Linked DNA regions of Homo sapiens. The gene in region 1 interacts genetically with each later gene. Each region holds a gene or a part of one and is shown on either strand. Other genes may lie near its edges.

Region 1 (3,662 bases):
GGCTGACAGAAAGAAAGGCAGCAAACCTCTATGCTATATTTGAAAAGCCCAATGAAAAGAGGGAAGGAGAGCACATCAAAGAAACTAAGGATAGAGAGGCAAAGTGAAATTAAATTTCTCAGTGTGAGTCATGCAGACATATGAAAAGAATACCAACTTTTTTTTTCTTAAATGACAAGGTTTCACAATGTCACCCAGTCTGGAGTGCAGTGGTGTGATCATAGCTCACTGCAACCTCAAACTCCTGGGCTCAAGCTATCTTCCCCACCTCAGCCTCCCAAGTAGCTGGGACTACAGGTACTTGCCACCATGCCTAGCCAATGTATTTTTATTTTTGCAAGGATGGGATCTTGCTGTGTTGCCCAGACTCATCTTGAACTCCTGGCCTCAAGCAATCCTCCCACCTTGGCCTCCCAAAGTGCTGGAATTACAGGTGTTAGCCACCTTGCCAGTCCTGAAACCAATTTTTAAAAATTACAACTTGCCTAAGTATAGTCTCTCATTCCTGACTTACATGAGCTAATGTGGGGGAACTGGTTTGGTAACTGGATAATGTGGTGCTTTAAGTGAGAGGCAGTTTAGTGGTGGGGTAAAGAGCCTAGTCTCTGGTGCAGTACTGCCTGGATTCGGATCTTGGCTCTGCCACTCATTTGTTGTGTGAACATAACTAAGTTTATTTTCCTAGGCCTCTGTTTCTTCACCTATACAATGTGGATAACCCTCATAGAGTTGTTTAAAATAGGACCTATGTATGTAAATGCTTAGAATAAGGCCTGGCATGTAGTAAGCACTTGTTAAAAAACAGTAAAACAGGCTGGGCATGGTGGCTCATGCCTGTAATCCCAGCACTTTGGGAGGCAGAGGCAGGCGGATCACCTGAGGTCGGGAGTTTGAGACTAGCCTGACCAATACGGAGAAACCCCGTCTCTACTAAAAATACAAAATGAGCCAGGCGTGGTGGTGCATGCCTGTAATCCCAGCTACTTGGGAGGCTGAGGCAGAAGAATCACTTGAACCTGGGAGGCGGAGATTGCGATGAGCCGAGATCAAGCCATTGCACTCCAGCCTGGGCAACAAGAGCGAAACTCCATCTCAAAAAACAAAAAAACCCAGTAAAACATGACAATAACAAACGTTCAATAAGCTCTCACTATGTGCCCAAGCACGGTAGTAAGAATATAAACATATGTTCATGTTGTCCTGGGGAAAAAAAAAAAAAGAGAATATGAACAATATAAAACAAAGGATTAGGTAAGGAAAAAAATGAGACAACAACAGAAGAACATAGGAAGGAATACACAGGCCTCACAAACCAGAGGAAATTCTCATGATTTTATAATGTTAGTGTGAATTCATAGTCATCTCTCAGAAGACAATATCCCATCTATGGGTGATAGCAGTTTCAGTCTCCAGCATACAATTCATTTGGCTCCCCGACTGTGTAATAACTTCTCTAATCAATAGGTCACAAGAGTGTCAAATGCATTAGCACTAAATTTATATCAAAAAGTATAATTAGAAGGAAAGGTAAAATTACGACTTTAAGAAGGCTTTTGGATTACCTACAGATTTATCTATCTTCCTTTTGGTCCTCTATCATCAGAGGTAATTTAAAAGTTTGTTGCATTTTCAAATCAAAACCACAACGCAATGCCACCTTACTCCTGCAAGAATGACCATAATCAAAAAACAGTAGATGTTGGCATGGATGTGGCCATCAGGGAACACTTCTACACTGCCGGTGGGAATGTAAACTAGTACAGCTGCTATGGAAAACAGGGTGGAGATTCCCTCAATAACCAAAAGTAGAACTACCATTTGATCCAGCAATCTCACTACTGGGGTTCTACCCAGAGGAAAAGAAGTCATTCAAAAAAGATACTTGCACACACGTTTATAGCAGCACAGTTCACAACTGCAAAATCGTGGAACCAACCCAAATGCCCATCAGTCAACGAGTGGATAAAGAAACTTGTATATACGTATATATGATGGAATACTACTCAGCCATAAAAAGGAATGAATTAACAGCATTTGCAGTGACCTGATGAGATTGGAGAGTATTATTCTAAGTGAAGTAACTCAGGAATGGAAAACCAAATGTAGTATGTTCTCACTGATATGTGGGAGCTAAACCATGAGGACGCAAAGGCATAAGAATGATACAATGGACTTTGGGGACTTGGGGGAAAGGCTGGGAGGGGGTGAGGGATAAAAGACAACAAATATGGTGCAGTGTATACTGCTTGGGTGATGGGTGCACCAAAATCTCACAAATCACCACTAAATAACTTATTAATGTAACCAAATACCACCTGGACCCCAGTAACTTATGGGAAAAAAAAGTTTGTAGCATTTGGCCAGGTAGGGTGGCTCACGCTTGTAATCCCGGCCCTTTGGGAAGCAGAGGCAGGTGGATCCTTGAGGCCAGGAGTTCGAGACTAGCCTGGGCAACATGTTGAAACCCCGTCTCTACTAAAAATATGAAAATTAGCCGAGTGTGGTGGCATATGCCTGTAATCCCAGCTACTTGGGTGGCTGAGGCAGGATAATCGCTTGAACCTGTAAGGCGGAGGTTGCAGTGAGCTGAGATGGTGCCACTGCATTCCAGCCTGGGTGACAGAGTGAGACTCTGTCTTAAACAAGTTTGTTACATTCAGAACAGGTACATGAAGATCTATTCCAGAAAAAGGGGCAGAAACTATTCAGAGGGTGCTGAAGTGAACTTGGGAGGAAGGAAAAAGGGAAGCCTTCTGTGTGGCCTCTGCTTTTTGGGAATGGAAAAAGAAACTGCAATTGGATTAAATAGTTGTTTCCATTAAGACCTAATTTTGTAAATGTCTTGAAATGCAATGTGTCATGAATGCCCAAAAAGCAGTAATGGCTCTTTATTATTTTACCTTTTTCCAGAGGGACCAGATGGCATACTTAGTGTTTTCTGTAAACTGAATTTACTGGCAGGAACATTTTCAGCTGACTGGGATAAACTGATGCTTCGATTCCTGAAGAACTCAAATCCACCACTTGAACTGGGTTCCTAGGATTACACACCATATGCAGTACCATTAGAGAAAGATGCTACGTGGGTGTATGGCCTAGAGAAGATGTGTAACTTTTGCAACTAACCTGAGCTGTGGGTGTGGATGGAGGTGTCTCAGATTCTCCAGAGCCAATGGCTTTAAGAAATCGAATCATGTGTCGACAAAGGTCCCACTTGCCTTGTTCTAGTGCTGTGTTGAATAGAAGGGTAGCATGTTGCCTACTTACTGCAGGGACTTCCATATTCTACAAAAAACAACCAGGACAGCATTCTTTTTATACTACACAATTTGGGAAGATATGAGCAATTCTTTATCTCGTTTTCTAAACTCAAAGAATGTAGCCACACCACCACAGGGGTTAGTTTAATAATAAGATTAAAAAGTACCATACAAGGAAAAGCGAGGCAAGTACTCTTCTGGTGTATGTAAACTATAATTTATTAAACTCCTACTACATGCCAGATAGCATACATATACTTTAAGTCATTTCATTTATTTCTCCCAGTGACTCTGCAGATAGGCATATCATTTGTATTTTACAAGTGAGGAAACTGAGTTAAGTAAATTGTTGAAGATCAGCAGAAAAGGAAGAAAAAAAAGGGAGGTTTGCCTGACTCCAAA
Region 2 (3,662 bases), about 64 Mb from region 1:
AACCTGGGAGGTATAGGTTGCAGTGAGCCGAGATTGCTCCACTATACTCCAGCCTGGGCGACAAAACAAGACTCCATCTCAAAAAAGAAAAAAAATATATATATATATTTTCAACAAAATCAATTTCTTAAAAAAATTCTTAGGCTTTTAAAGAGAAAATCCACTATATTCTTTTCCCTAAGATATAAAGATGCATATTAGAAACTTTAACTGGAATTTCAGGGTATTCTCTTGTTAGAATAAAAAGATATAAAGATAGAGGCAATGATTTTTTTAAAAAAGACAGCAATTACTTTTAAGTGATCCAGTTAACTTTTAAGTGATCTAAAGATACTATATGAAGATATGGCTTTAATGTACAGTACTGATGGGATAAATGACCTTCGTATGATATACGTTAAATATCTTTCTTTTCCTACTTCCATATGAAAACATGAATAAGTGAATAAATAAACTACAAGAAAACTGCAAATGCAGGGCTATGAAAAAGAGGGATAACGTGCTAAAAATGAAAGACTACTAAAAATACATATGCCATAGGTCCTTTAAACTTTTAAAAATAGTATTTGGGTTTTCTTCTGATTATAAAAGTGATACAAAATGATCAATATAGAAAATTCCAATAATATGGGAAAATATAAAAAAGCAAACAAAAATCATCCATTATTTTGTTGGCCAGAGATCACTACTTGTAACATTCTGGCAGAAAACAAATCTTTCAGGTTTTTTTCTATGTATGCACATGCACAGAGTTTATTTTTAAGAAAAATCTGGGATATTCTTTTGTACCAATTTTATTCTACTTCAATTATAAATACATTCCTATGGCATTAAATATTATTCTATAATTTTTAACTCGTAAAATATTTCACCCTCAAGATTAACAGAATTTAACCATTCCTGTGTTTGTTTCTACTCTTGTATAAGTAACACTCATAAATAAATCTATGTACATATCTAATTATTTAGGAGAAATTTGTAGAAATATACTTGCTGGAACAAAGAAAAAAACTTTATAAAGTTCTTGATATATAAAGTGTCCTGCAGAAAGACTGTATAATTTATACTCCTATTGGAAGTACATGTTAATGCTTATTTCCTAAATTCATCATCAATACTTTAATCTTCACTAATAAGAATCACATTTCATTTTAATTTACATTTCCTTAATTATCATTAAGCCTAAATATCTTTTCTTGTGTGATTACTTTTCCTTTGCTTCTTCATTTATGAACTGCCTATTTTGCCTAATTCTCTACTTTTATGAATTATCTAATTTACTATTTGTGATAGTCATTATTTTTCTTACGAGTTTGTAAGAGGTCTTTACATATTAAAGATATTAAGTCTCTATTTGTCATATGTGTTATAAATATTATTTTCGATATATTACTGCAACTGATTTTTTAAATTCTTTTTTTTTTTTTAAAGATTGGGAGTCAAGTAAAATTCTTTTTTTTCTTTTCTCCCTCAGGTCTATTGAAGAAGTATAAATGACAAATTAAAATTGTGTATATACACACACACACACACACACACACACGTATACACACACATATATATATACGATGTACGACATATTGTTTTTATGTATACACTGTGAAATGATTACCACCATCAAGTGAATTAACTTATCTATCACCTCACATAAGTATTTTATTTTTTGTGGTAAGAACATTTAAGATAACGCTCTTAGAAATCTTTGGGTATACATTATTAACAGTAATTACCATGTTCTACCATTAGACCTCCAGAACTTACTCATCCTAACGGAAACTTTGTACCCTTTAACCAGCAACTCCCTGTTCCCCACCACAACCCCTACTCCTGCAATCACCATTCTACTATTTCCATGAGTTCAACTTGTTTAGAGTCCACCTACAAGTGACACCATGCAATATTTATCCTTCTGCGCTTGGCTTATTTCACTTAGCATAATGTGAGTCTCTTTTCTTCATATAGGTTTTTATTCCATTTAAAGTTCAATTTGGTATTTAAGATTAAAAAAAAAAAACCACCTAACTTTCTATTTTCTAAAAAGTCAATAAATTTTACCAGCATCACAAATTGAACAGGGAATCCTTTCTCTAATTATGTGAAATGCCATATTCATCATTAATGAAATATGTACATATTATGTATTGGAATTTGTTTCTGGACTTTATATTCTGTTCCATTACTGAGTCTATTTTTGAAATAGCATCACAATTTTAATTACTCTGTCTTATTAATAAACATGTAAGTATCTAATGGTAGAGTGTTCTTTATTGTTTTTCCCAACAATTCCTCAGCTATTCTTTAAGCTTTATTCTCTCTAATGTACTTTAGAATCATTTTTGAAGTGAAAAAATAAATCAGTGGTTTTTAATATATTCACAGAATTGTGCAACCATTGCTCTTATCTAATTTCTAATGTTTTCACCACCCCCACAAAACCCCATTCCTATTAGAAGTTACATCCCATTCCCTCCTCCCCAGCCTCTGGCACCCACTAACCTGCTTTGCCTATTCTGAACATGTTATATAAATGAAATCATACAATATGTGGCCTTGAATCTGACTGCTTTCAATCAGCATGTTTTCAAGGTTCATCCACGTTATAGCATGTATCAGTATTTCCTTCCTTTTTTATGGCCAATGTTCTATTGCATGGATACGCCACATTTTGTTTTCCATTCCTCAGGTGAGGTATTATTTTTTGGCTATTATAAATAATATGGCTATTAATGTTCTCATACAAGATTTGGTATGGAATGTGTTTTCACTTCTCTTGGGTATATACCTAGGAGCAGAATTACAGGGTCATATATGGTAATGCATGTTTTTCTCCAAGAATATGATATATATTAACTATAGTTTTATTAATATATAGTGATTCTATGTTTAATTATTTGAGGAAATGCCAAACTGCTTTCCACAGTGGCTGTACCATTTTACATTCTTACCAGCCATAAATAAGAGTTTCAGTTTCTCCACATCCTAACCAACATTTGTTATTGTCCGTATTTTGGTGTGAAGTGGTATCTCACTCCCTGTGGTTTTGCTTTGCATTTCCCTAATAGTAAAGATGGTGAATATCTTTTCATGTCCTTATTGGTGGTGTGGGTAGGTTTTTTGGAGAAATGACTATATGTGCTTTTTTTATGTGAAACTTGTAATTTGCCAGTAGTAATAAACTGCCTGACTGTGAATCTTTCCTGCCACACTACCCTCAAATATAAAAATATTTTAAAATTTACTTAAATGTTTATTTAAGCATGCAGACATCAGAGAGAACATAAAATAGAAAATTAGTGTCATAATTCCACCCTATACTACTTTTAATCAATCTTTATTCTTTAACCTTTTTCTGACTAGAAAACAAATATATGCTTTTATAAAAAATACAAGAAAAAAATCTATAGCATTGTTGTGTGTATGTATTACTATCTGTTCAGCATTTACCATGTGCCAAGCACTGTTTCAAACACTTTAAAGTATTTGCTGTCTCATTCAATGCTAATAAATACATTAAAAATTATATTAGGCTGCTGGGTGTGGTGGCTCATGCCTGTAATCCCAGCACTTTGGGAGGCAGAGGCAGGTGGATTGCTTGAGGTCAGGAGTTCAAGACCAGCCTGACCAACATGGCGAAACCCCGTCTCTACTAAAAATATAAAAAT
Region 3 (2,336 bases), on another chromosome or scaffold:
CCCAGAAGACAACGCCAGCAGTCTTCCGACCAACGGGCCCATCAGGCTCCTCCCCTAACAGGGACAGACATGGTGAGGAAGTGCAGACTCCCTGGGCCACTGGCAGAGAGGACGGTAAAGGGAGCCAGGCCCACAGGCACCGAGAGACCACTGGGCAGATGCTACCGTGCGTGTGCTTAAATACTATTCTATGGCAGACCGAGTTTCTAAGGTTTGAACAGAAAAACAACAGAGTCTGGCTCATGCCTGTAATCCTAGCACTTTGGGAGGCTGAAGTGGGCAGATCACTTGAGCTCAGGAGTTTGAGACCAGCTTGGGCAACATGGCAAAACTCTGTCTCTACAAAAAGTTAGCCAGACATGGTGCCATGGGCCTGTTGTCTCAGCTACTTGAGAGGCTGAGGTGAGAGGATCACCTGAGCCCAGGAGGTCAAGGCTGCAGTGAGCCATGATCGTGCCACTGCACACCAGCTTGGGTGACTTTTTTGTTTGTTTTTGTTTGTCTCAAAAACAAAACAAAGGCAACAGAGTCAAGAGACAAACAGATGGGCCCATCGCCACTGCAGAAAGGGTCCAAAGACAGAGACAATCAGATGGGCCCATCGCCACTGCAGAGAGGGTCTGAAGACAGAGACAATCAGATGGGCCCATCGCCACTGCAGAGAGGGTCTGAAGACAGAGACAATCAGATGGGCCCATCGCCACTGCAGAGAGGGTCCGAAGACAGAGACAATCAGATGGGCCCATCGCCACTGCAGAGAGGGTCTGAAGACAGAGACAATCAGATGGGCCCATCCCCACTGCAGAGAGGGTCCGAAGACAGAGACAATCAGATGGTCCCATCGCCACTGCAGAGAGGGTCTGAAGAAAGAGGTCTTCTCACAGAGGAATTTTAGACCAAGCTCAGGTGGGTAGGGGGAGAATTCAGACAAAAAACAGTGCAAAGGATCCCAAAACAGAGTGACAGACCCCATCGTATCTAAGGGCTCTGTCCAACTTCACAAGGTTTTATTCCAGAACCTCCTTCCTCTGGAACCTGGGGCAAGAATCTCTGCGGTTGCAACTGAATTGCATCTAGTCACCCCCCAGGAAGCGGCTGCCACTTCTAAAGGTGGACTGCTCAAGGACACAGGGGCCCTGGCACTGCACCGCTGACCAGAGGCGGGCATGAAGAGGCTGCCCTTAGCGATCTCCCATCTCACCTAGGATCAGAAATCAAGGTGCATAGGAAAAAGCTTTGGGAAAATCCAGAACCATGATGGTGTGACTAGAAAACCCACATCATGGTTGACCACATTTTGTAGAGTATCTAGAAGTGAAGTAGGACCCGGGTTTGAGACTGGGAAGGTTGGCCTGGAGTCTCCGCCCTGCTACCAGCCAGTGGAAGGCCCGTGAGCTGATGGCCAACAACCCGACCCCAACACGCTCAAATCCACGCCAGTGAAGACACTGACTGTGATGCGTCTCTTACAGGGAGTGCTGTGAGGATTGGGATATATTCGTTCTATTATTATTCATGCTCAAGTTTGAAGACCAGTGAGTCTTTTAAATCTTACAGATGGCATTCAATAAGAATACAAACACAAATAGATCTATTTTAAAACCGCACCTAACCCTAACGCACCTGCAGTGCCTCCCACCTGGGCTGCTAATGACGGCACCCCTGGAACTGTGAGTCCCCACAGCTGCAGTGGGTAAGGAGAGTGTCCCCCAAATGCACTCCTGGAAACTTTCTACATACACAGCCTGGCTCGGGAGATGGCTGTGCAGACAGGAGGCTCTGGTACAGCGTGAGCCACTCTGCAGTGCGTGCCCTTACTTCTCTTCAGAACGGTGGTCCTCCTGGTCACTGATGTCATCGTCGTCTACCAAGTGGCCGAAGGGCTCCGACGAGATGGACACCATGTTGGAAAGGATGACTCTGCTGTCACTGCTGCCCGTGAGGACCAGCTGGTCATGAGAGTGGTTGTAGCGGACGTTCCACACCCTGCAAAGGGCAAGGCAGCTGCTGAAATGAACTGTCACCCGCAGGCAACACCAACAATGGATCACACCGGCTCTGAGGGCCCCACTAGGCTGGGGCTCACGTTAGGCACTGCCAGGCAATCGGCCCCCAGTCACAGGGCCTGACATAAGGCAGTTTTCCGCTGAGGTTGGGTTTACTGCAGGTTTCTCTTAAGTCCCAAGAGACAGACAGGGAAGACTAAATGTTGGCTGAAACCTACAGGAGGAGAAGGCTTATCACGCAACATTTCAGACAAGCTTTCTAAAATTCGAAAAAAAAAAAAAAATACTGTCCCAGAAGCAACATGTGGATTAGCGATATCCTGTAATATC

The links.
Region 2: changes in RIC1 (region 1) and PTAR1 are lethal when combined (synthetic lethality), as found in Homo sapiens cells (one study listed by BioGRID).
Region 3: changes in RIC1 (region 1) and EIPR1 are lethal when combined (synthetic lethality), as found in Homo sapiens cells (one study listed by BioGRID).

The regions. Positions count from the first base shown.
Region 1 is NC_000009.12:5,765,037-5,768,698, reverse strand, and holds part of RIC1 (guanine nucleotide exchange factor subunit RIC1), read right to left. Parts: intron 3,286-3,662; coding exon 3,127-3,285; intron 3,038-3,126; coding exon 2,901-3,037; intron 1-2,900. UniProt on the Homo sapiens protein: The RIC1-RGP1 complex acts as a guanine nucleotide exchange factor (GEF), which activates RAB6A by exchanging bound GDP for free GTP, and may thereby be required for efficient fusion of endosome-derived vesicles with the Golgi compartment.
Region 2 is NC_000009.12:69,725,510-69,729,171, forward strand, and holds part of PTAR1 (protein prenyltransferase alpha subunit repeat-containing protein 1), read right to left. Parts: intron 1-3,662.
Region 3 is NC_000002.12:3,190,596-3,192,931, forward strand, and holds part of EIPR1 (EARP and GARP complex-interacting protein 1), read right to left. Parts: intron 1,987-2,336; coding exon 1,819-1,986; intron 1-1,818. UniProt on the Homo sapiens protein: Acts as a component of endosomal retrieval machinery that is involved in protein transport from early endosomes to either recycling endosomes or the trans-Golgi network.